Homo sapiens: one gene and its partners. The protein of the gene in region 2 purifies or fractionates together with the protein of the main gene of each other region. This does not show direct contact. Each region holds a gene or a part of one and is shown on either strand. Other genes may lie near its edges.

Region 1 (7,030 bases), on a different chromosome or scaffold from region 2:
TGATTTGAACCAGCCTGGAGCAGAACCATCATAAGCCAGTTCATAGATTTTATGTTCGAAAAGCAAATGTTTGTCTTTTAGAGCCACTGAGATTGTGGGGTTGTTACATGGCATTATCTAATCAAAACTTGACTGAATTAAATCATTCATCTAAGTAAAAGAAAATTAGGCAGATTCAGTGATTTTTTTTTTTTTTTTTTTTTTTTTTTTGCTTAGGATTATAGGGGAAAGAACCAACTCAGCCCTGGTGATCTTCTTTCATTTTAATAAATTTAGTATGTTATTTTAAAGTAGCATATTTTCTTTCTACTTTATGCAGAAATCACATTTCTTATACTAGGTTTATCAACATCCATTATTTCTTTGCATATGGCTCTAGAGTCATTTTATCTGCTTTTCAGGCTTATGCAGATTTCAACCATGTGAAACATGAATATAAGTATGTCCGTGATTCTTTTTTAAATGATTTTCACCTACATTTGAAACATGTTATATTAGTCATGGCCTCTCCTTTTTCTTTTTCCTTGTTAAATGAATATTGTGAATTCATGGCAGAAACTTTGGGAATCTTACCTAAATCCAGTATAAGTGACAGACTTAAGAGTTTAACTGTTGTTTGTTTTTGCATGCAAATCATTAGTCCATTTATTTATGCATGCATTCATTCATTTAGCACCTGCTACGTGTCAGATACAGTCCCAGATGCTGACAATATTAAGAAGAAGGATGAAGTATTATCTCTTTCCCTAAAATGCCTTGTAATCTACTGGAGGTCAGACACAAAGACAAGTAAATTTCAGGAAGAGAAAAGTATGAGGTATTATGGCACCACATAGGAGTAGGAAGACCTACCTCAATTTTGTTGTGGCAGGGGATAGGGGAGTGTGCAGGGGTGAAGGTAGAGAATAGAGTTGGAGAAGGAGAAAGTTATCAGATTTTCATTCAAAAAAGTTCATTTTATTAAAATTTATTTATTAAAGTTATTAAAATGCAGGGTAGGGAAGAGACAGGAAAGGTCAAAATTAAAAACATGAAATGAGGGAATGTTTATATTCTTATTCTTTAAAGATAAGAAAGACATTTCATTTTATGTATAGAATTCTGTTATTTTAAAATTTATTTTAACATTGATCTAATTGATTTTTCCAAATGGAATAGAGAGATGGAGACTAGATCACATCATTAATTAAAATTGCAAAGTAATGGCCGGGCGCGGTGGCTCACGCCTGTAATCCCAGCACTTTGGGAGGCCGAGGCGGGTGGATCATGAGGTCAGGAGATCGAGACCATCCTGGCTAACAAGGTGAAACCCCGTCTCTACTAAAAATACAAAAAATTAGCCGGGCGCGGTGGCGGGCGCCTGTAGTCCCAGCTACTCGGGAGGCTGAGGCAGGAGAATGGCGTGAACCCGGGAAGCGGAGCTTGCAGTGAGCCGAGATTGCGCCACTGCAGTCCGCAGTCCGGCCTGGGCGACAGAGCGAGACTCCGTCTCAAAAAAAAAAAAAAAAAAAAAAAAAATTGCAAAGTAATTTTATTATAATTAAGAAATTAGAAATACATGAGGGAAAATTTTAAATATTTTATACTTATCAATACTATATTTACTTTAAATATATTGATCTGCGCTTTACAAAAATAGCATGCTATTTGTTGTTTGCAGCTGTAAAAGCAAATTCATTTTGATATAGGATATTTCAAGTTGGATATTGCTTAAATATGGTGTCCTTTATGTATAAAATGGAAATTTAGAAAACACAGTGATGTAACTGAAGGAAGAATTACCCAAGGAAACATTATGTAATAGTATGAAAATACCTATACACTAGGCAATTTGCTTTCAACTGAATTTAAAAAGCAAATACCAAAGTTATTGAGAAATCTAGCTGCCCTAGCAGTTACTACCCTGGCAATACTAACAATATGCTGCAAAAATTAATTTGACCTTAGTTTTTTATGACAGAAACTTACTTTTATAATATTACTGTAATCTCATTTAAAGTAGAAAATTATATTTTTTTTAAATATTATTTAACTTTAAAATTAATTATGTGAAAACAAGTAGCACTGATTAATGTAAAATACATTTTGCTTTAATTGGGTAATTGAAAACAGAGGAGTTTCATATTGCAATAGAAGTCTCTAGTTCCATAAATACATCATAGAGCCTGAAACCTAAAATTAAAACAGTATCAATACATTTATTAGACTGCCATAAAGATTTTTAGTTGATGTTGGTAAGTCAGTAAAACTAGGAATAAAAGTGAAAATCCTCATTCTTTGTTTTATGAATCTGAAATAGATTGTCATCTAAGAGAAGTATCTTCTGTATTTTTTACCTTACTAGTTAGAAGTAGCATACAGAATGGTTTTACTAGCCATAATTAGTTTGTCTTGATTTATGTATAGCCAACCTTAAGTTAAAAAATTTTAGTCTGTGCACAGTATTTTAAAAATATTTGTAATTACTGCTCTCTATGTTTACATATATATATATAATGTATGTATGTGTGCGTATATATGTATGTAGGTGTGTGTGTGTGTGTGTGTGTGTGTGTGTGTGTATGGGATATCCAAACCATAAATACCTAGGCATCATGAAAAATGTCCTTTATAACACTAGTGGATATTATTTTTAAGCGATTTCATTATAAATTCTTTAATAGAAGTTAATGTATATTATTTTGTAAAATGCTGTTTTAATGATATGGAAGAATTTATATGTAAATAAATTTGCTAATGACTTCTATTTAAATTTAAGCTTAATGGTCACATGCCTGAAAAAAATCCAGATTTTTCTGGACCATATTTTTTTGGTCTTTTTCCTAAAAGAAACATATATCTGAATATAGAGTATTTCCTATATATATTATATGGGATACAAATATGTAAGAAACATTTTTATAAGGAGTAAACATAAAAAGAAGCATTGCACAGCAGTTAAGCATTTGAACTCGGAATTCAGATCATCAATATTACCTCCAACAAACTGGGTGACCTGGAACAACTTACTGAACCTTTCTTAAGGTTCTGTCTATCTTTGATTACCTCACTAAGAAAACAGAAATACCTTAGGGAGTTGTGAAGATTAACCAAGATAATAATATAAAATGTTTAGCATGTTATTTAGCAGTAAATTTTATTGGTAAAAATTCTCTGGTAGTTTCTGTGTTCAATAAATATTCATCTTTAATTAAGGTGATTAAATCAGTTACTTTATTAAATATATTAAGTATACTTCTAATTTTACATTATAGATAATTTATCCCCTAACTGATTTTATTGTTTGTTTTAGGTTACTTTTCACATAGAACCATATAGCAATCGAGATGATCAAAACATGTACAAAAATGTCAAGTATATTATAGACAAGTGAGTTTCTTCAATATTTATAAATATTGTTATATTATCCAGTGATAATTATTGTTTTAAGAATAGTACATTAAATTATATTTGAGATTTGAATGATTTATGATTATTCCATTTTTAATAAAATTAAATTGTTATTGTAATGAATGTCACCATCATTTCGAAGAACATTGCTGAAGTTTCTTATAATTCACTTTCTTTTTGGAAGATTGCTGTTTTTACTGTTTTACAGGTTTATAGGCTATTTATGATTTCTGTAGTTTTGATATTTTAAAATGACATTATTTTCTAAACCTTCAGAATATAGCTTTATCTTTTTAAAAAGAAGGTTCAGATTATTAAAAGTGAACTACTTCTTTTAACACAGTAGACCCAGAGCTGATATTTTCATTTATATCTAGCCTGATCAAAAAGAATTTATTAATACAGTTTTCATTTTTTGAAAGAATTTTACTGATAATAGTCTGTGACAGATGCCATAGTCTTACAAAGAAACTTGTCAGCAACAGTAGAACATTTATCACTGATAGATAAAAAAGCAGTTTAGGTATTATGTAGAGTATTATTTATAATGTAGAGACATAGGCTTTTTATGGCATTAGTCATCATTTGTAAACCTCAATATGAGATGGTTAATACTTGTTTGGTAATGCATCCAGTATCTCATTTTCTAATGTGTAAAATTAAAAATGCATTTTTAATTATTACACTTACACAACTGATTCCCCTAAGAAATGGAGCAGTGTGCTCAAACTGCACTGACTCCTTCATTTTCAGTAAACAGTTTTTGTCTGTGGCAAATTAGTTGTGAATATTCATTTCACTTTTATATATGCTTATTTTCTAGATATGGAAATCATCCGGCCTTTTACAGGTACAAGACGAAGACTGGCAATGCTCTTCCTATGTTTTATGTCTATGATTCCTATATTACCAAGCCTGAAAAATGGGCCAATCTGTTAACCACCTCAGGGTCTCGGAGTATTCGCAATTCTCCTTATGATGGACTGTTTATTGCCCTTCTGGTAGAAGAAAAACATAAGTATGATATTCTTCAAAGTGGTTTTGATGGAATTTACACATATTTTGCCACAAATGGCTTTACTTATGGCTCATCACATCAGAATTGGGCTAGCCTAAAATTATTTTGTGATAAATACAACTTAATATTTATCCCAAGTGTGGGCCCAGGATACATAGATACCAGCATCCGTCCATGGAACACGCAAAACACTCGGAACCGAATCAATGGGAAGTATTATGAAATTGGTCTGAGTGCCGCACTTCAGACACGCCCCAGCTTAATTTCTATCACCTCTTTTAATGAGTGGCATGAAGGAACTCAGATTGAAAAAGCTGTTCCCAAAAGAACCAGTAATACAGTGTACCTAGATTACCGTCCTCATAAACCAGGTCTTTACCTAGAACTGACTCGCAAGTGGTCTGAAAAATACAGTAAGGAAAGAGCAACTTATGCATTAGATCGCCAGCTGCCTGTTTCTTAATGCATTGATTAAAGTTTAATAGTTATCAAAATCACCTAATTTTTAAAAATAGCTTTCGTTTTGAGTTCTGGAAAGAAAACTGTCAAAATCAGTATATACTATTAGTTATATTTAAAAATATTTTTTTAAATTCTTTACAGATAATATTATACTTGTTACCCTTCACAATACCACATGAGAAAATATCTGAGACAAAATGTATACAAATATATTCCTTATGGCATAATTTATTGCATTTCTGACTGAAATCAAAATTCTGATTTGATGGCAATTGAATTTTCATTTTACAATAGATAAATGCTTGTGCTACCTAAAGCACTTAGCACACAGTTAAATTATATTTACATCCTAGACCCAAATAAATAGGATTGTGTGTATATTTGGGATATCTATTGAAGAAAAAAAGAAAACCCCTTAAAGATAATGTACATGCTTCATGTCATGTCTTTAAAATAATTTAATCAACTTTATTGTCTTAGTATTTAGACTCTGGATAACTCTACAATAATGAGGAAATTCTTAAGAATAACAAAATCACTGTACCTTCCTCTCAATTTTGCTGTGAACCTGAAATGGCTTTAAATTAATACTCTTATTTTTTATTTAATTTAATTACATAAATTAAACCTTACCATGACCAAATTGTGTTAGGACGGCCTGCTATCTACAGCACAGTGTGTCATTTGCAGATTTGTGGTTACCTATACCACGCTAGGTGTTTTGACATGTTTAGTGTTTCTGCTTTACAGTGCTGAATTCCATATTTTAGAAGCTATGAAAGTCCTTTTATGAAAAAGTTACTGATTGCTTCTCAGTTATTAGGAAAACAGTTGTTTCACAATTATTATGTAGATATGATGCCCAAATATCATTTTTAGTATATCTTGTCGATCTTTAAGTTGTTACTATTGTGTTATTCATGTCTTTAAATCAGATACCAAATATTTTTTAGGAAAGAAAAATGTTATTACTGTCATTAGGTTGTCTTTTAATACTTTAAGTTATTTTGACGAAAAGTAATAGAGAAAATTTACTTAGCATTTTAGATTCTAGAGACATGGAAATGAAAATTATTTTATGTCTAGAGTAGGTCCTGAAGTTTGGCTTTACATTAAGTTTAGCACTGTATCAGAATGAAGAAACTAATATTTTACATAAAAACTAATACTTTCAATTTTTTATATAGTAATATCCCCATTTTGTAAATGTTAGACTTTTATCATACCTGTAAGTTAAAATACTTGTTATCAATAACTTGTCATGTTGTGACAAATTGATCACTTGTGTACGAAAAATAAATCTCCTTAAAAACTAAATAAAATGCACTGTATTCTTACAGTTAATGTTTATAACTATAGTAAAAAATTAATATATATCCTATTACATAAATGTTATTTCTTAGGTGTTCCATTAAGAAGAGCAATAGAATAATGCTAAAAAATAATGCCTATAAATCTTCAGAGTATAAAGACATCCATTCAGAAACAAAAATTAGCACTAAATTTTTTATAAAATAGACCAGATGACAAAATTTATTTTATTTTTAAACAGTGGTTTTGACACAAATTATGTTATTGAAAAGCATTATTAATGTTTAATTTATTTAAAATTTTGGAATTTGCCATTTCTCAGAGAATGATCAGGCCTTAGGAAATTAATACAGTAGTAGTAATCATTTTCTAGGGGAAAATAAAAGAATAAATCACTATACTGATATTTTGATACAAGCAAGCACTTACATGGTAATCACTATATAGATCCAACCTGTGGATTTTCTTCTTATGTCCATTTAACTAGAATATATTATTTTAGGTATAATTTACAAATGTCACACCTAATAATCTTTTATAATATACCATATTTCATTAAAGTTTTGTTAGAGAAGTATCTACCACAGAGGAGTTTTTGTCATTGTGTACGTTGTGTATTTGAACCCACCATGACAGAAAGTAAATTTTAGGAAATAGTTATGAGATTAAGGGAAAATCTATAAAAACAAGGTTAGCATATTCTCAACACAGATACCACCACTTTCTTTTTCCCATTATAGACATGGTGAATCCACACAGCATACTTCATCTCTGAGCTTTGTTGTGATTCCTCAACACATTACCCTAACCAGCCAGCAGTAACAGATTTCAGAGTAAGATAAAGCAGAT
Region 2 (6,974 bases):
TTAGCTTCTGTACTGTATATTTTTCACAGAAGTCCAGAGCTGAAAGATACCCCCAAATCTAACTCCTTTACACTAACATATTGAGAAATTGAGTCCATTAAGTACTGGGTTAGGACAATAGAGGAAGATGAAGGTGATCAGGATCTAGTTCTTTCCCCCGAGCCAAGCTGTTTCTGGACATGAGGTTTTACTCACATGTGAAGAGACTGAGTACCCGAGGACACCTAACTATGTGCTTCTATATACAAACCAGTGTGAAAAGAAACAAAAAAGGCAGTTAAATTGTAAACAATCAAATAGTAAGACCCTGGAGCCAATACATTCACTGAAGATAGTTCATTTTGATCATTTCAGGACCAAGGTGTAGATTTTATTAAAAACAACTTCTGTTTGGCCTCATGTATATTAAATATTCAGACAATTTTTACTTTTACAAGCCCCTGAATCAAATATGGCCACATCATGACTTTAGTGATATTTATTAGCTAAATAAAGTAATCATAAAATTCTCCTAACAAATAAACATGTTTCTGAGAGAAACATCAGGTACTTTAGGAAGTTTAATTTCCTTGTTTACAGCACCACATGGTCCCAGTATTGGTAAAATCAAACCTATCTTGAATCCAGTGACCTATAACACTGAAAGCAACCTTAAAAAGGAATATTAGTAAACTATGTCTTTATTTTTGTGAGGTGCGAACTCTGAAATTTCACCCCCCCACTTTTGCTTTGAAGGTAGAATGGACATTCTCTAGAAAAAATAATATTTAAAAATTATTTTACTAAAGTGCTTGCTTCTTTGGGAAAGCGTGCTATATATTTTCAGAAATTAAAAAAATAAAACTCACTGAAGACCTTTGTAACACTGATATGAAAGGAAGAAATATTTACCTACTTGATCTTGATAGTAAGTTTTATTATGCAAAGTTACATTTAAGGGGAATCCATGAGCTAGTAAGTTGTGTCCATTCTATATTAATAATCTTATGTCCACTCCACTTGGGTCTGAAAAAATAATCCATTTACTAATTTAATCACAGTTAGTAGAGACTTTATTAATTGGTAAATGTATTATTTAATTCTGAAATATTTGAGACTTTCCTTGTAGTAATTTTCAGAAGTACATAAACACATTAGTGAAATACAAAGAAGAACAGATGGAGGTAAAGAGAGGAAAGAGATAACAGACTGAGAACCGTGAGTGAGGGAAAGGGGAAAGATGAAGAGAACTGGGTTAAAGGGTACAAACACACAGCAAGACAGAAGGAATCTGGCTGTTCACTGTTTGAGAGCACAGTAGGGTGACTATACCTTGCAAAAATGTATTGTACTCAGGTGATGGACACCTTAAATACCCTGATTTTGATCACTACATATTATGTGCATGTAACAAAATTTCTCATGTATCCCACAAATTTGTACACATTTTTAAAAAAAGACAAACAGAAAAAGCCTTCTTTGAATCTTTTCTTGACTAATGTTTTAGAAAGAGAAAGTCTTAAAGATCCCTTAGTGGGTAACCTCTTCCTTTAGGCAGTGGGTCTTAGACTCCCCGGGATGATTCCAGAAGCCTCTGATAATCAAATGTACTCAATCCATGGATATTGGATCAGTAATACTAAATTACCAGTTTAAAACCCTAAAGTCAGAGAAGTCTGGTGACCTGCTGAGGATCGCAGGGCTCCTCTTACTTGCTTGCACTATAGTTCCTGATTCTGTGAAAACAAACCAATGAACCCCAACTCCTCAACTCTTAAAATGCATACAGCCAGATACATATGGACAGCAAGAGTACAGACATTTAAAAACAGAGCAGAAAAAAGTAACTTGAACAGAATGTGGCATTTCCCTTGGTCTGTTGCTAACGGCCCACATACAACATGCTTAAAAAATCCCACCCTGGCACTTATTTTCATCATCATTTAAAAATGATTCAAATGGACATTTAGAATGCATGGCATTGAGCATGTATCCCATCTGGGGATAAATGAAAAAGGGCTTCCTCGAGCAGGGCTGTGTTTTTAGTGGTTATCAAGCTAAGGTTAATGTGTAATTGGTCTCTTCTCTTTGGTCATGCTTTTAAAGCCAAACACAATATTTTAATTGTCTATTTTCAGTACTCCAAAGCCAGAAGCATTAACCAGTTCTTTTTGTAAGAAAATAGCTATGGACATGATTTGTAAAATGCCTTCAAGATTTGAAGACATGAAAGAAACATGTAAAAAGGAATTACCTAATTTTCTATTATTCACTTTTTTAATTAACCCAGAAGCCAATCACACTTTGTTTTACTAAACACTGGAGACTCCTGCTTCCTAGATGTCACCTTTGGGGTGGCTGTTTTCTGAATATTGTTCCAATTAGAGTTCTTCGCACAAATTCTGAAGGTTGGATATCCCACATACTTATACATACTCTGCAGTATAATTTTAAACTCCAATATACTCAGACAAGAGTCCATAACCAGCCAATGGGCTATGAACCTATTTTGATGCTGCCTGCTGTCAGCAAACTGGTCTATTGATAACTATCCTAACAAAGTTAAAACAATGTTCATGGTAACACTGGAAAGCTGCAAGAAAGTAATTATGGCTAGGTGAAATGAAAAACTGACCAATCATGGAATGTATTCGTTCACCGTTCTAATAAGCCCAGCTTTTCTCAGTCTCAGGGTTTTGGTCCTGAATGTTACACTGTAGACATTGTGTGTTAATCGTTTCTCCAATCTAAAGATGGGAATTATCCTATGGGGAAAACATCACCTTGCTTTGGCCTTTACTTCCGGAGGATTTTAATGCTTCATTGCTAACATTATTTTAGTACTGCACACCTGGACACATCGCACAGTATAATGTAATATATGTAGTCAGGTTTTGGAGAATTTATTTCAATTTACATACAATCCTCCAAATCCTCTGGCGAGCTTGATGTGAAATCTGACACAGCCACATCTCCCTAGCAGGATCTTCTTTTGCTCTCTATGTTAATAGCCAAAGGCTCCAAGGATCTCTCCCTGGAGCGCGGTGGGGCTAAGGAGTCAGGAAGAGGGGTGACTGCGGGGCTTGTTGCGCTGAAGATTTACAATGTACTTCTTGCAGGCGGCTCAGCAACCCCCTCTGTGGCTGTGGGTGTCTGGTGTGACAGAGCGGAGAAAAGCTCTCTAATCTCCCAGTGCCTGCCTCTGCCGCTCAGTCGCTCCCCTCCCTCCCGCCTTTCCTGCCTCCTCGCGCGCTCCCTCTCCTTTGCCTTTCTCTGGGAGTTTCAGTCCCTCAATGCAGCTGGAGTAGCCCTGGCAATCTAAACCCGAAGCCTGTGTATATACACACACGCACACACGCGCACACACATGCACACGCGCTCGGACATACGCACTTCGGCTCTCCCCCTTGGGATATGGAGCAAACCCAGAGCTTCATCTACCTGAAGGGGATGGCCCGGCCGGACACTTCTTTCTCACTTGTCATCTCCGGAGGGCAGAGCAAGACTGGAATGAGGGAGTCTCGCTGTCGGGTCTGCAACCTCCTGCCGTTTGCCGCCACCGCCGCTTAAAGTGCCCAGGGTGGAGAAGGCTTTTCCAGGACGGATCTCCGTCGTAGCTTCGCGGCCCTGGGACTTCCTCCTGCTGGTTCACTCTAGTCTCTCCCACCTCGGCCATCCTTTTCTCTCCAGCTGCAGGGTGTATGGCTCGGGTGCCTCCCGTGCTGTGGCCGCCGTCACTGCTGCTGCGAGCACATTCCACCCAGAGGACCGAACGCCGCCGCTGGAGTGGGGGGAGAAAGCGAAAGCCCTAACTTCCCTCTCTACACCCTCGCTCTTCCCACCGCTCCCGTCCTTCTCCCTAGCCGAGAACCGGTTGGAAGGCTCCCGCGGAAAGCGAGGCGAGAGCGCGGCGCAGGGGAGGGAGAGCCGGGAGCCGCAGGCGCGCAGGGGCGGGGGCAGCATGTGCCCCGCCGCCGGGTGCTCGTCCGAGAAGTAGCGCGCGCTGGGCAAGCAAGACGCTTTCCAAGTTGGGCGCGTCCCAGAGCTCACAGCCCGGTGTCCAGAGTGAGGCGGGGCTGATGGGGGTCGCGGAAGCTGCCGTCGCTTGTGTCCAGAACCCGTCTTAAAAGAACCCGGGCCAGCATCCCCAGTCGCGCGCCCTCGGCCCGCGTGAGCTCTCCGATGCCTGCTCTGGCTGTGGCCCGGGTGGCCCGCCCGCGGGGGGTGCCAGAGGGGGCGGGGGAGGAGGAGGAGGCGGTGTGATGGCCCTGGACGGCGAGCTGGGGGAGCAAGAGGAGGAGAAGAAAAAGAAGAAGAAAAAGAAGAGGAAGAAGAAGAAGGAGGAGGAGGAGGAGGAGGAGGGGGCCGAGAAGAGCAGCTCACCCTTCGCAGCCGCGATGGGGGAAGACGACGCCGCGCTTCGGGCTGGCAGCAGGGGGCTCTCCGACCCGTGGGCAGACTCAGTGGGAGTGCGACCCCGCACCACGGAGCGCCACATCGCCGTACACAAGCGGCTTGTGCTGGCCTTCGCTGTGTCCCTCGTGGCATTGCTCGCGGTCACAATGCTCGCTGTGCTGCTCAGCCTGCGCTTCGACGAGTGCGGGGCGAGTGCCACGCCAGGCGCCGACGGTGGCCCCTCAGGCTTTCCGGAGCGCGGCGGCAACGGGAGCCTCCCTGGATCGGCCCGGCGCAACCACCACGCAGGCGGGGACTCCTGGCAGCCCGAGGCGGGTGGGGTGGCCAGTCCGGGGACCACGTCGGCCCAGCCGCCGTCGGAGGAGGAGCGGGAGCCGTGGGAGCCGTGGACGCAGCTGCGCCTGTCGGGCCACCTGAAGCCGCTGCACTACAATCTGATGCTCACCGCCTTCATGGAGAACTTCACCTTCTCCGGGGAGGTCAACGTGGAGATCGCGTGCCGGAACGCCACCCGCTACGTAGTGCTGCACGCTTCCCGAGTGGCGGTGGAGAAAGTGCAGCTGGCCGAGGACCGGGCGTTCGGGGCTGTCCCTGTAGCCGGTTTTTTCCTCTACCCGCAAACCCAGGTCTTAGTGGTGGTGCTGAATAGGACACTGGACGCGCAGAGGAATTACAATCTGAAGATTATCTACAACGCGCTCATCGAGAATGAGCTCCTGGGCTTCTTCCGCAGCTCCTATGTGCTCCACGGGGAGAGAAGGTATGGAGGGAGGCGGTGCCCCGCGCTGCCCCACCCCGGCGCGCGGCTCGAACCTCTGGGCGGCCTGCGACCCCGGGGACCCAGCTGGCTTCCAATACCCGGGAAGCCAGGGGTGGGGGGAAGGAAACGAAAGCGGAGTAGGGCAGTCAGAACTCCGGGGTCTCCCAGATGCCTCGGGGTCTCGCTGCCGCCAACTTCGCAAACTGACTCACCGGTGCCAAAAGATGAATGCTGCCCCCTCCTCTAGTCGGGACCTCTCCTCTTCCTGTCAGAGTTCCTTAGCCATCGAAACGCAGGGCTCTTTTTCTGAAGGGTAGCTGATAATCTGAGCGATGCCAGAGTGACATGAAAAGCTTGCCAAGTTACTGTCGAGGGAAAATACGTGGCGCTGAAGGCCAAGACAACAGCGCATCCAGGTTAGCATGTCAGGGCAGGTCAGGGACACACCGTTCTCCACCCCCACCCACAACATGCCCATCTTCCCTGACTATTAGTCTCCTGCCAGGTGCAGAGCAGAGGATGGGCTTTGGCTGCGTCAAGTTTCCCCAAACTTCAAGTTGAGATTCGGAGTGAAAAGAGTGGTTTCCAGAGATAGGCTGAGAGGACCGGGACGGGGGTGGAGGTTGCCAAGGCCAGAGCCAGCGATAAGTGGCCTCGCGGGCGCTGCCAGCTCTGTGCTAAGGCAGGGCGACTCCGGTTGTTTGTTTATGAGTTGCTGCCTCTGGAGATGATTCCAGTGGCCAAGCGGTGGGAAAGCTAGTTGTCAGTCTCAAATGCCTTGTTAGTGTCTTTGCCGCGTTTTACATTTGTGTAGTTTTGTATTTTTATAAAAAATTTCCGAGAGGCCGTGGAGCTTTTCACCACTTGTTTAGAGCTCAGACCTCATAATCCAATAGAACTGAGTTCGAATCTCTGCTGTTCATCTAACTCTGGTGGAGGTTTGAGGAAGGTAATTAACCTTTTCCTGACATGACTACTTCTAGTGCTTATTGCACGCCCATGTACTCAATCCGACAAGAACCCTATGAGGTAGACGCTATTATCAGCATTCCCTATTTTACAGGTGGGGAAATGGAGGCACAGGTGTGTCACATAGCTTGATCAAGATCACCAAGAGTGAGCAGACAAAGCACGGATTTAGACCCAGGGAGTCTGGCTCTTGAGCCTAGACTTTTAATTCTAACTTGGGGATACCAATAATAATATTCTACTTGTAGGATTGGTGTAGACGTCTATGAGTGAATGCATTACAAAGTACTTACCCCTGTGCCTGGCATATAGAGTATCCACCATAAATGCTAGCTCTCATGAGTGTCTTGTGGCAGTAAGCTCTCAGGTATATTGTTGAATGAATAAGTGATTCTTGTTCTTTGCTCTAATTCCCACATTGCTAAGATAACTTAGATTAATTAAATGACTGAGGGCAGATGAACAACCAAAGTGAGCTTAAAAATTAAACCAACAACTTTAGAAGAGGAGGCAGGTTACAGATCAGTAATGAGGCAGAGCCTCTCCTTTTCTCAGGTGATTCTCACAACAGCAGAAAATGGGCTCGGAGAAGCCCAGGGCCCTGGAGGTGAGCAGGCTTGTCAGTGGAGAGTTAGGACTTGAACTTTGGTTCTCTAATCCCTGGACCAGACAGAGCTTATGGTGTTTGGAAACTCTCAGAAGAAGTTATTGTGTAAGAGGCTGGGGAAATTGCAATGTGTTGTGAAAGTAAGCAAAAGTTTTATTATTTATAGAGTTCTATGAAGTAACCTCCTATAAATAAAATGCCCAATGCTTTAGTAGCTGTATGATAGTTAAAACCTCCTATAAG
Region 3 (6,646 bases), on a different chromosome or scaffold from region 2:
TTTCCATAAGGAAAGATCCAAATGGCTAGATTCTTCATCTGAATCAGAAATCATTGTTTCTCGTTATTTTCATGGCAACCCCGCATTTCGTTTAATCAGAGGGTATTTTATAGCACTGATTTACGCAGTAGGCATAAATCAGTGTGTCCACCTGCTACACACGATAAAACCCTAAACCAAAACAACAGTGATAATAACCATCACCCTCCCTCCTCCCCCTCGAAAAACCAAAAACACTTTCTTCAGTGCTAAGAATTAACTATTAACTATCATGCTAAAGGTCAAGACTTAATGCATATTTCAAAAGAATTTAAATCAAACCACAGCTTTTCTTACAAATATACCTATACAGAGCAGATAATCAGAGGCACAAAGTGTCACTGTACCCCTCTCCTTCCACTACCTGTCCATCTTCCTCACTTTTGGTATAAAATTTAGAATAACAGGTAAGAAAATCAGTACAACTGCTGAGGAAATTGGTGTTGAAGAATTTTTCACAAAATCAGTTATCTCCCAAATAAACTTTATTTTGAAAAGAATATCACAATATAGTCATGTAAATTTAAATATGGCACACTGAGCAGTATTGACGCAAATTATATAGTCATGTAACCATGTTTCGGTCAATGTACAATATATATATGATGGTGGCCCCACAGATTATAATGGAGTTGAAAAATTCCTGTCACCTGCTAGGGATGTCTTGATCCTGACCCTGCATAGGCCTAGGCTAGTGTGTTTGTCTTGGTTTTTGACCAAAAAGTTTAAAAATTCAAAATTTAAATAGATAAAAGCTTATATAATAAGGATATAAGGAAAATATTTTTGTACAGCTATGCAATGTGTGTTTTAAGCTACGTTATTACTAGAAGAGTCCAAAAATTGTTTTTAAATAAGTTTCTAAACTAGAAAATTTACAGTAAGCTAAGGTTAGTTTTTTATTATTTCTATAAAAATTATAGAATTTTTTTTTTTGAGACAGAGTCTTGCTCCTCTGTCACCCAGACTAGAGTGCAGTGGTTCGATCTTGGCTCACTGCAACCTCCACCTCCTGGATTCAAGCAATTCTCCTGCCTCAGCCTCTCAATTAGCTGGGACTACACGCATGTGCCACCACACCTGGCTAATTATCGTATTTTTAGTAGAGATGGGGTTTAGCCATGTTGGCCCGGCTGGTCCCAAACTCATGACCTCGAGTGATCCACCCACCTTGGCCTCCCATAATGCTGGGATTATAGGCATAAGGCACCATGCCCAACCAGAAGAAAAACATTTTTTATAAATTTTAGTGTCACCTAAGTGTACGGTGTTTATAAAGTCTACAGTAGTGTACAGTAATGTCCTAGGCCTTTACATTCACTCACCACTGACTCATCCAGAGCAACTTCCAGTTCTGTAAGCTCCGTTAGTAAGTGCCCTATACAGGTATACCATATATATATATATACACACACCATATATATATATACTATATATATATATACCATATATATGGTATATATATATATATAGTATATATATATATATATATTTTTTTTTTTAGATGGGGAGTCACTCTGTCACCCAGGCTGGAGTGCAGTGGTATGATCATGGCTCACTGCAGCCTTGACCTTGCCAGGCTCAGGTGATCCTCCAACCTCAGCTTTTGTACTTTTAGCAGAGACGGGGTTTCGCCATGTTGCCCAGGCTGGTCTTGAGCTTCTGGGCTCAAGCAATCCACCTGCTGAGGCAGCCTCCCAAAGTGCTAGGATTACAGGCGTGAACCACTGCACCTGACCAGATTTTTTACAAAATCTTTTATACCATATTGTTATTGTTGTAGTATCTTTTCTGTGTTTAGATGTTTGAATAAACAGACACTTGCCATTGTGTTACAATTGCCTACATGATTCAGAACAGCAACATGCTGTAGCCTAGGAGCAATAGGCTATATACATGTCCTACATGTGTAGCAGGCTACACTATCTAGGTTTGTGTAAGTACACTCTATGATGTTCCCACAACGATGAAATAACCTAATTAGACATTTCTCAGAGTGCATCTCCATCATTAAGTGAGGTATGACTGTACATGTGAAGTCACAGTTCATGTCTGATTATTCCCACTAATAGAAGAGTACAAAGGTACAGTGAAACCAAAAAAAAGAGCAGATAACTTAAAAACCATAACTTGTGCATATGTTTTCATTTTATACTTGTGTCCAAATGTTTAGATGAGAACTGATACAAATTCACAGGTTTTTAAAAATGCTGCCTGAATAATCAAAACTCTTTTTACTTTTCTTGCCCTACTATAGATAGCATCAGTAATGTTTATACAGAGTAGCACCATCGGACAAACTACTTTCCCTTCTCCCATCATAGAGTATAAGGCTGTCTGTATTATGGCTTAAAACATTAGCAATGACTTAATAGTTTTCAACATACAGCTGATTTTGTTGGAGAAAGGTGTTACAGTATAGTCTTGTTAAGAACTTTATGTTTTACTGAGGAAAATGTCAACATATAATCAGTGAAAGTGGTCTACATATGATGTAATAATTGTTCATAATTCTTTTTAAACAACAAATGGGGGTAAATATGAATGAAAGAAGTAAAACACATCTGGAACCTCGCGTTGTTCAGGGTTTTTGAGGCAATTCAGAGCTAACTGCAAGATTATGCTATGAAACTGAAGCCATTTCTATATCATAGTGAGAATTCTAATGTACCAGAAACAGGCAGAAAGCCATCTTCAGAGAATGAAGACTCAAAGATAAACAACGGCACAGCAAACTGAAGAGAGAATTAGACCCCAGGGAAATTTTCACTTTTCATTAGTAGAGGGCAGTAGAAGACACTGAACTTGGGGACTGAATACTGGTTCTGCAGGTTAGTGCTGACCCTGGGCATAACAGTCAATCTTTTTGAATGACAATTTCCTCGTCTATAAATTAGGTACAGTGAGATCCACCAGCTTGTTTTATGACTCAGAGCCATGAAAAGCGAAGATAATAATGCACTTAATATCATTTTGTACACTATAAAGGGCTACTCTTAGAAAATGAAGATTTGATAACTTTAAAAAAAAGAATTAAAGATAAAAGCCAATTTAAAATAAAATTATATATATTTTTTTCTTTTTTAAAATCCAGGATAGGTATTTATTCAATAGTAGCTGCTGTAGGTCTGCTTCTTTTTTTTTTTTTGAGATGGAGTCTTGCTCTGTCACCCAGGCTGGAGTGCAGTGGCACAATCTTGGCTCACTGCAACCTCCGCCTCCCGGGTTCAAGCAAATCTCCTGTCTCAGCCTCCCGAGTAGCTGGGACTACAGGTGTGCACCACCACGCCTGGCTAATTTTTGTATTTTTAGTAGAGACAAGGTTTCACCATGTTGGCCAGGCTGGTCTTGAACTCCTGATCTCAAGTGATCCACCCTCCTTGGCCCCCAAAGTGCTGGGATTACAGGCATGAGCCACCACACCCAGCTAACTTCAGTTTTTGATGAGACAGAAATGGGAAAATGTAGACTGGTTTACTACTTTATCTTATGATACAATGTTATTGTAGTATAATATACTATAGACTACCCATTAAAGAACCAGGAAGGATATTCCGCTAGCCTTAAGAAGTAAATATTGAATATAAATATAACTTTCTACCTCATCTATAACATATTGATACATTTTATTACAAAGAAACTCACACATAAATGATTTGTCCTATTTATCATAATAGGCCACCAATCACTAGGAGCCAAGCTTCATCAGCTTAAGTCCTAGGTAGCATGTCTCAATGCATACATATTTATATGTTATTAACCGTGTTTCTTTTCTTTTTTTCGAGACAGAGTGTCCAGGCTGGAGGTGATCTCGGCTTACCGCAACCTCCGCCTCCGGGTTCAAGTGATTCTGCCGCCTCAGCCTTCCTGGGTAGCTGGGATTACAGGCACGCATCACCACGCCCGGCTACTTTTGTATTTTTAGTAGAGATAGGGTTTCTCCGTGTTGGTCAGGCTGGTCTCGAACTCCCAACCTCAGGTGATCCGCCCGCCTCAGCCTCCCAAAGTGCTGGGATTACAGGCATGAGCCACCATGCCTGGCTATTAACCTTGTTTCTAACTTCAGCATTGCACATCTCCTTAGTAAAGCAGTAGCCATTAACAAGTCAGGTCCAACAACCATTTTCCTCTGGTCCTCAAGCAGAGACTCAGAGCCAGTTACACATAAACTATTTCATTATAACATGAAAATAGCAAGCCTTGGGCTATTGCAAAAGGCTTTTCAAATGTTGACCTCTAACTTGGAGAAAATAGAGGGAAGCAGAAATATAGGGTGCTAATTTGTGCTATAACCTGGTCTCATGTCGTGGTATATTCCCAGTTGCAACATTTTAAATTTATAAGTGAGAAAGTAAAACAAAGCTTCATATCTGTGAAAGTGAAAAATTGTCCAGAAGTCTTCTATTCAAAGACCAATTAGCTTTTTCTTCCCAATAACTTATCAGAAAGAAATGGGTACTTAGAAACCTAAGGGGTTCTTTAAATAGGAGTCAGAAAAAATATATAAAAATAAAAAACAAAGCAAGAAAGAACATTGTATAAAAATAAAATGTTCTTTAAAGATGACTGCCCTCTCTTGAAAGATGAGTGCTATATTAAAAGGGTAGATGTATCTCTATAACTCATCGTGTTTATATGTAAATTCTCTGGCAGATATAAACCCATCTTTGTCTTCATCTTCTTTATCAAAAATATCCTCCACCAAAGCATCATGATGACTTTCATTCACCACCGCACCATGTTTTTCAAACTCCTTCTTTAAATATGCTTTAACCTACAAAATAACAGATCCCATTAATAACTTGGATTCATAAGATACCCACATTGAGCCAATCAATATCACAGACATGGACTGTTATTATATTTAGTTCATTAACTAAATATAATACCTTCTAAACAGCCATTTTATGACATAGTTTTAATGATAATTAAAAAATAATAGAAACTTTTTCCCTTAAAAAAACTGTTGCTAAACTGCTAAAGTGGAGACACAAAATATTGCTCAAAGGCAGGGCCAGGTGTGGTGGCTCATGCCTGTTATCCCAGCACTTTGGGAGGCCCAAGTGGGAAGATTGCTTGAGGTCAGGAGTTGGAGATCAGCCTGGCCGACATAATGAAAGCCCATCTCCACTAAAAATACAAAAAAAAGTTAGCCAGGCATGATGGCATGCGTCTGTAATCCCAGCTATTCAGGAGGCTGAGGCAGTTGAATCGCTTGAACCTGGAAGGCAGAGGTTGCAGTGAATCGAGATTGCGCTGCTGCCCTCCAGCCTGGGCAACAGAGTGAGACTCTGTCAAAAAAATAAAAAATTAAAAAATTAAAAATATATATATATATATAGCTCTCTCTATATATATATTGCTCAAAGGCAGAGATAAAGCTTATGTCATGTATACAATCCTCATATAGGGCTTATATTATTGGAGAATACCCAATGAGAGCATACTACTTGTTCTTAATCTGAATCTAAATACTAGGCATTTCTTTTCTTTTTTTAGACAGAATCTTTTTTTTTTTTTTTTTGAGACGGAGTCTCACTCTGTTGCCCAGGCTGGAGTGCAGTGGCGCAATCTCGGCTCACTGCAAGCTCCGCCTCCCGGGTTCACGCCATTCTCCTGCCTCAGCCTCCCGAGTAGCTGGGACTACAGGCGCCCGCCACCACGCCCAGCTAATTTTTTGTATTTTTAGTAGAGACGGCGTTTCACCGTGTTAGCCAGGATGGTCTCGATCTCCTGACCTCGTGATCTGCCCGCCTCGGCCTCCCAAAGTGCTGGGATTACAGGCGTGAGCCACCGCGCCCGGCCTTTTAGACAGAATCTTGCTCTGTCACCCAGGCTGGAGTGCAGTGGCACCATCTCAGCTCACTGCAACCTCTGCCTCCCAGGCTCAAGCAATCCTCCTACCTCAGCCTCACACGTACCTGGGACTTACAGGCATGTGCTACCACATCTGGCTTTTATATTTTTTGTAGAGATGGGGTTTCACCATGTTGCCCAGGCTGGTCTTGAACTCCTGGGCTCAAGCAATCTAAACCCCTCAGCCTCCCAAAGTGCTGGGATTAGAAGCATGAGCCACTGCACCCCATGGACACTTCTCTTAAAACTAGATTAAATAGTGGCATCTTTGACTTGAATAAATGTCTGCAAGTAGTGGGTCTTTTGGGTTTTGGTTATGATCATGTGATTAGATTGAGTCTAATCACAACCTTTCAATCTCAGAAAGTCAGGTCTGATAAGTGCCTAGACTACAATTTTCCATTTTCATTTGTTTTTTTGTTTTTCTTTTTTTTTTGAAATAGAGTCTTGCTCTGTCACGCAGGCTGGAGTATAGTGGCACGATCTCGGCCCACTACAACTTCCAACTCCCAGGTTCAAGCGATTCACCTGCCTCAGACTCCCTAGTAGCTGGGATTACAGGCACCTGCCACCATGCCTGGCTAATTTTTGTATTTTTAGTAGAGACAGGGTTTCACCAAGTTGGCCAGGCTGGCCTCGAACTCCTGACCTCAGAAGATTTGCCTGCCTTGGCCTCCCAAAGTGCTGGGATTACAGGTGTGAGCCACCATGCCCGGACTCCATTTTCATTTCATTCAGATATTTAAAAATA
Region 4 (7,030 bases), on a different chromosome or scaffold from region 2:
GTTCAAGGCTAAGATGCAGTAGAGCAGCTGCGGTTTACACGAACCAAAGGGCATCGTAGAAACCTGGTGCCTACAGGATAAAGGGGGCGAGTTGTCAGGAGTTCCCTATGGCCTGAATATAAGCAATTTATTGAGCCTTTATATGTTTATAAAACTCTAAGTCCATCATGCTACCTTGGGCCTAAACTCTCCCCAAACTCAGCTGATTTTGAGTTGGGGCAAAGGGGTCAGAATGTTGGCATCAGGCAGTGCCCTGGCCAGGCTTTCTGGTTAAATAGTTATTTGACAAGGCTGTGCTTTTTCATTCTTATAGCTTAACTCAATAAAAATAGTACGCTTAAACCTGCAGCACTCCTAAAAGAAACGCTATGATGAAAATTACTCAGAGACATGAGCAGAAAGGGGTGGGAGAGCAGAAAAAGGAAGTGATGCCATTATCTCTAGTGTGCTGAGATCTAAGAGACATCTGTCTCTACTTGGAAGCGTGACATCTGGAAAGAGAAGTCCCCTGCACACAGCTACGTCCCTCTGCCTTCCCTTCCTGCTCGCCACCAGCACCCCTTCCTTCCTCTACCGGGAGAGGAACAGTGGGAAGGCAGGGTCCAGCTGAGGCTCAACCTGTGTGTGGGGCCAGGGGAAGCTAAAGCCAGCTGGGGAGGGCGGGCTGCCCCATTCTCCACATGCTGCTGCCACTGGGCTGCAGGCCGGGCTAGTCCTGGGTCCCAGGCAGGGAGTCAGCCTCTGCTGGTCACCCAGTGCCTGGGAGGCAGACCCTGTGGCCAGGACACACCCCCACTTGTGGGGATACCTGTGAGTAATTCCCTATGAATCACTCATGGGTCACTCAGACTCGAGTGGGGGTAAGGCTGGGCAACTTGGGAAAAAGGAACAAAAGAGGATGCCTGCTGAGAGAGTGTGAAGGCCTGATGCTCCCCGCACCTGTGAAAATGGGAGCGAGTCCATCTGGGAAGGAGGGCTCAACTCCGTGGCTACACTGCATAGGGAATAAAGGGCCTCGAGCCTCCTTTCCATTTATAACCTAATTTGTTCATAAGTGATGAGATTCTGCTCAAAAAAACTATCGATACACGAGATACATGAAGCTGTGAATGCTGAAAAGGGAGATCTCTAGGCTTTTTTTTTTTTTTTAAAGAGACAGGATTATGCTGTACTGCTCAGGCTGGAGTGCAGTGGTGTGATCATAGCTCACTGCAGCCTCAGACTCCTGGGCTCAAGGGGTCCTCCTGCCTCAGCCTCTCAAGTAGGTGGAATCACAGGTGCACATCACCACACCCAGCTAATGTTTAATTTGTACAGACAGGATCTCACTGTGTTGCCCAGGCTGGTCTTGAACGCCTGTGCTCAAGTGATCCTGCTGCCTTGGCCTCCCAAAGTGTTGGGATTACAGGCATGAGCCACCGCGCCCAGCCATTTCTAAGGCTTTTTATACTGTCTATTTGAACGCTAATTTTAAAAACAAGAAAAAGGGAAAGCAAGAAAAACAAAAAAACCTGTGGCCACCTACAGCATCACCGGAGCCACCAGGGCCCTTCACCCTGTGTCTGCTGTGTTTACAGGCCCTCTCTCTTCCAAGGCTGGAGGCCTGGGGGTTTATAGGTAGAGAAAGGGAGAAAAGTTCAGTCATGAATAGATTAAACATCCATTCTAGGGTATGGAGGGTTTAAGTAATAGGTAATTTTCCTGAGTGATTACTAAGTCCAGGACATTAGTTAATCCTCCACTGTTTACAAGCATGGATGAGCAGGGATTTCAACGGAAGTAATCACTCCCCAGCTCAAAATCCTTCAATAGTTTCTCACGGTACTTAAAATCCAACTCCTTTATCACAGCCTAGAAAGCCTGCCTGATCTCATTCCTACCCTCGCTTTGACCTCATTGCTGATGACCTTCTGCCTTGCTTATACGCTTGGCCATACCACTATTCTGGGTTTTTCAAAAGAACTTCCTCATAGCCTTTGAGAATGCTGTTCCCTCTGCCTGGACCATTTTCTCAAAAGTATATATTTTTTTGTATTTTTTGTAGGGACAGGGACTCCCTGTGTTGCCCAGGCTGGTCTCGAACTCTTGGGCTCAAGCGATACACCCGTCTGAGCCTCGCAAAGTGCTGGGATTACAGGCGTAAGCCACTGTGCCCAGACTTGTGGACCTTTTGTCTCCCGACCCCCATCTCCAAAAAAAAAATTGTCCAGGTGCACTGGCTCATGCCCGTAATTCCCAGCACATGTAATTACAGCACATGCCTGAATCCCAGGCTGAGGCAGGCGAATCACTGGAGTCCAAGAGTTTGAGACCAGCCTGGGCAACATGGTGAAACCCATCTCTAAAAAAATAAATAAATAAATAACAAAAAATTAGCTGGGTGCGATGGCACGTGCCAGTAGTACTAGCTACCTGGGTGGCTGAGGTGGGAGGATCACCTGAACCTAGGAAAGTTGAGGCTGCAGTTAGCTGTGATTGCACCACTGTACTCTAGCCTGGGTGACAGAGCAAGATCCTGTCTCAAATATATATATATCTGACCGGGTGCAATGTCTCATGCTTGTAATCCCAGCACTTTGGGAGGCTGAGATGGGTGGATCACCTGAGGTCAGGAGTTCGAGACCAGCCTGACTAACATGGTGAAACCTTGTCTCTACTAAAAATACAAAAATTAGCTGGATGTGGTGGCAGACACCTGTAATCCCAGCTACTTGGGAGGCTGAGGCAGGAGAATCGCTTGAACCCGGGAGGCGGAGGTTGCAGTGAGCCAAGATCACGCCACTGCACTCCAGCCCCAGCAACAAAGGGAGACTCCATCTCAAAAACAATTATATATATTTATTTATTCATTATATATATGCAATATATACATATGCTATATATATATATGCCCTTAACAGAAGGATATAAAAGAGACTTAGATCTATTTAAGCATCAGCTGAAGGCCCTTCTTCTCCCCTGTTGGCTGCTTCTTGGATAATTCAGCCTCACCTCAGTGATGCTTCCAAAGGAAACAGGATCTGTGAAGAGGGCAACAGGCTGAGTAGAAACACCACAGTGTGTGTTCCCGGTCTGGCGATCTGCTTACTGGTCCAAAACCATCACACATCTTCACCTCTGGATCTGTGCTCACTGTGGTAGATATCATGACCACCATTAATCCCCCTTCCCTCCCCAAACATACCAGCCACGTCACCCTTCAAGAGCAGACCTGCTTTGACAATAGAATGTGGCAGTGATGCCACTCCAGCTCTGGGCTAGCCTGTGGGAGGCCCAGCAGCTTCCACTTTCCCTTGACAGTCGCCATAGTCTGACTACTTGACACCGCCATGCTGTGAGGAAGCCCAGGTTGGCCACATGGAGAGAGGGGCCAGGTGGAGGAGCACCGAGGCACCAGACATATGACTGAGTCTTCACAGACCTTCCAGTCAACCGCAAGCTGAATGCAGCTGAGTGGGCGACTCAAGCTGATGCCACATAGAGCAGAAGAACCGCTGAGCCAAGCCCTGCCGGGGTTCCTGACCTACAGAATAATGGAAACTAATACATCTTTGTTGTTTTAAGCCAGCAAGATTTGGAATGGGTTGTTATAAAGCAATAAATAGCTAATCCACAATGTCCTCCCCTCCTGCTTTCTGAATCCCACCCATCCCTCAATCAGATCCAGTAACACCTCCTCCTGGAAGCTTCTCTCATCTCACCTTATTCCTCACCCCATCAGCCTCTGTACTCTGCTCGGTAAATACCTACACTGAGGGCTCAGCTCAGGGCTCTCTCCTGAGAATCCCTCCCTGACTTCCACTGTGGGTGCTTCTCTGAACACTCAAGGTGGCTCATGCACACCACACCCCATTCCTGTGACCATCTGTCTGCTTGTTTCCCCATCAGACTTTTATCCACATACTCCCCCACACAGCCATTACCTACCACATAATAGGGGCTCAGTAAGAGCTTATGAACTAAAGGGATAAACTGCTATGCCACAAACAATCTCATTCATCTCTCTGCAGACCTGTGAGTCTCTTTCCCACTGTGATTGCAAATGCTTTAGAATAAGGATTATGCCTACTTATCTCCAGGTCCCCCAAGAGCCTTGCACATCGTAGGCACTCAATAAACATTCTGTTGACTTTTAACTGATTGACATGTCACTTTCATTGTGACCTTAGCTCCAGATTCTCCCATGCACCTCTGATACTCAGGTTCCAGGTCTCCTAGACCTGGATGCTAGACAAGGGCAGAGGAGGCTCTGCTTGTTTATTTCTGGCTCTTTTCCAATCAATGAAATTCTCAAAACTCCATGCAGTCTACACTCACCACAATGAGTTCAGTCCAAAGGGATAATGTTTTGTATGGCACATTCTCTTTTAAAAGAATTCACCCCCCAACTCCTACTGCAACAGACAAATGCGAAAATGTTAACACAGCTTCCCACGCCACCAGGGAGTTCCAAATCAACTGGAAATATCTGATTCAACCTGTTATCGTAAGACACAGACCAGACAGCGTTGTCACCACAAGGGACAATCATTCTATGAACACATACATGGTCTTGTGACCTCTACTCAACATTCCAGAGATAGAGGAGCTGAGTGGCCCTGGAGTGGGGGAAGGGCTGGGTTATAAATAGTGAGGTGCAGTGGGCTGGACACTCGGGTGGCGGCCAGATTCCTGGTCCTCCTGGGCCTAGGTGACTCGTCATCTGCAAGATAAGCACAGTGCTCTGGGGACATCCAGGGCATTTTCCCACCTACCTCGGACCCTCTCCACCCTCCTGAGCTGCCAGGACCTGGCCCTGGCTCTCCCTGACCAAGCCAGAGCTCGCCTGCTTCCCACGTTCTAGCCTACGCTGCCTTGGGTTTTATGTCTCATCTGGGACTTGATCATAAAATCCCAAGGTTCACAGAGGCCATGAAATCTCAGTTCCTTGTGCAAGGGCCTGTGTCACCCAGAGCGGAACCAGGTCAGGGAGGTAAAAGTCCCAAAGGCAAGGATGGGAGAAAAGAAAACAGGGAGGGGGAGGTCAGGAATAGGTTCCTTCTAGCACAAAGCAGGCCCCTCAACAAGTCCCCATGGACCAAGTAAGTCTGCACTCAGTTCTGGGAGACACACAGTCATCATGGCTGGACTGCAAGAAAACAATTCTTGGACGCAGCCTGGCCTGGTTTCCATCCTGGCTCCCCCACTGAACAGCCACATGACTTTGGGCACATTTTCCCTGTTGGAAAACAGCCTTTCTGTGAGGCCATGATAGGATTCAGTCCCCCTGAAGTGACCAAGCCAGTGCTGTACATAGAAAGTGTTCAAAAACGCGAGCTCCCTCTTCCTTCCTTTCACGCCCAGACTCCGACTAGAGAGGGCTAGCTTATGTCGGAGGCTGTCTCAGAGTACAAACCCAGGTACAAGAGAAGCTCTGTCCTTTGAGAAGGCTGCGTTTAGCACCCACAAGTAACAAAAAAATCTTATTACATATATTATTCATTCATTCACATTCATTCATTCAACAAACATTTGTTGAGTGCCTAAGGTGTAGCCAGCATTGCTCTCAGCACTACTGCTGAGCTTCCTGGATGCAGGCACTATGGAGCTTTAGATACTTCCTGTCCCTAAACTGCTCTCATCCACGGTCCTGTGTCTGGAAACAAATATGACAGCATCCTATCTGCCATCAGCTAAGCCCTGAAGATGATAACGACACAGATAAAAAGTGATGCTTGAAGAGAGGTACGTAGGAGACTCCCTAGGTAGAAGAGAGGACAACACCCACTGCCCCAAGCTGTTATGCCAAAAATCTGACCCCAACTCTGAGCTCACCAGCCTGATTCTACAGATAATATTTGGCTATCCATCTGTGGGAAGAACCAGTTTTCCTTTTTTATTTTCAATGTGTTGTGAACTGATATTTTTGTAAATTACGTAGATCATGTGCTTAAATACTGCAATGTTGTTTGTTTATTTATTTGAGATGGAGCCTCACTCTGTTGCCCAGGCTGGAGTGCAGTGATGCAATCTCGGCTCACCTTAACCTCTGCCTCCCAGGTTCAAGCAATTCTCCCACCTCAGCCTCCCGACTAGCTGGGACTACAGGCGCGTGCCACCACACCCAGCTAATTTTTGTATTTTTAGTAGGGACGGATTTTCGCCATGTTGGCCAGGTTGATCTCGAATGCCTGACCTCAGGTGATCCACCCTCCTTTGACTCCCAGAGTGCTGGGATTACAGGCATGAGCCACTGCAACCAGTCTGTCAAATTATTTTAGAAGTTCCTAAATATTAACACTGAGAATATATATTTATCTTATTGCTACTCAGCACCAGATAATTCAGGCACCAATCTATGAACCACATTTGGGTAGGACTGATGGCATTTAGTTCATTCCGTGAACTGTCCAAAATCTAGCATAATACTGTCACATTTTTACCTCATGAAGTTTCAACAATATCAAAAATGAACAAAAAATTATTTTTAAAATGTTGTTGCGTGCTGCAAAGAAATACAAGAAATAGAATTGTAATATTCAACTTACTTGCTGATGGCTGAAATTTGACCAGATCTTGCAAATCAGTAGAAATCTGGAAGACGTGGCTGTAGAACTGCTGGACTGAATTCTTCAGGCCAGAAATGTCTCTGGAATGCGACCTGAGCGTTCCGTTCATCTGCCTGACACAGTTCCACAGGCTGCTGACATGCTTGTTGAGCCCCTCCTTGATCCTCTGAAGATTTCCTGAGATAGAGTCCAGCTTGCTGCAAGTTTTCTCCATATGAGACACCCTGCCCTCCACCATGGAGACCTCCCTCTGGACCCCCTGCGTGCATTCCTTACAAGCATCCAGCTCCGAGATGACCTGGCTCTGCAACCTCTGCCACCTCTCCTCCAGCTGACTGCAGCAATGAGCCACGGGGTGCTGGGGGGACGGCAGGGTGTCCACTGTCCTTTCTTGCTCACCCACCTTAGTGAACCTACCCATGCCAGCGTTTTCACCTGCTCTACAATTGCTCATTTCCTTTTGAAGATGAGTCACATCATTT

Evidence for each region.
Region 1: the proteins of TRHDE (region 2) and MANEA purify together in Homo sapiens (affinity purification with mass spectrometry; 2 studies listed by BioGRID and IntAct, with this or other methods). This does not show direct contact.
Region 3: the proteins of TRHDE (region 2) and FKBP14 purify together in Homo sapiens (affinity purification with mass spectrometry; 2 studies listed by BioGRID and IntAct, with this or other methods). This does not show direct contact.
Region 4: the proteins of TRHDE (region 2) and EMILIN2 purify together in Homo sapiens (affinity purification with mass spectrometry; 2 studies listed by BioGRID and IntAct, with this or other methods). This does not show direct contact.

Annotation. Positions count from the first base shown.
Region 1 is NC_000006.12:95,601,535-95,608,564, forward strand, and holds part of MANEA (glycoprotein endo-alpha-1,2-mannosidase), read left to right. Parts: intron 1-3,292; coding exon 3,293-3,369; intron 3,370-4,213; coding exon 4,214-4,871; 3' UTR 4,872-7,030.
Region 2 is NC_000012.12:72,268,403-72,275,376, forward strand, and holds the start of TRHDE (thyrotropin-releasing hormone-degrading ectoenzyme), read left to right. Parts: upstream 1-3,967; 5' UTR 3,968-4,241; coding exon 4,242-5,155; intron 5,156-6,974. UniProt on the Homo sapiens protein: Specific inactivation of TRH after its release.
Region 3 is NC_000007.14:30,010,081-30,016,726, forward strand, and holds the end of FKBP14 (peptidyl-prolyl cis-trans isomerase FKBP14 precursor), read right to left. Parts: intron 4,814-6,646; coding exon 4,655-4,813; 3' UTR 507-4,654; downstream 1-506. UniProt on the Homo sapiens protein: PPIase which accelerates the folding of proteins during protein synthesis. Has a preference for substrates containing 4-hydroxylproline modifications, including type III collagen. May also target type VI and type X collagens.
Region 4 is NC_000018.10:2,891,984-2,899,013, reverse strand, and holds part of EMILIN2 (EMILIN-2 precursor), read right to left. Parts: coding exon 6,528-7,030; intron 3,133-6,527; coding exon of another isoform or gene 2,993-3,132; exon of another isoform or gene 2,824-2,992; intron 1-2,823. UniProt on the Homo sapiens protein: May be responsible for anchoring smooth muscle cells to elastic fibers, and may be involved not only in the formation of the elastic fiber, but also in the processes that regulate vessel assembly. Has cell adhesive capacity.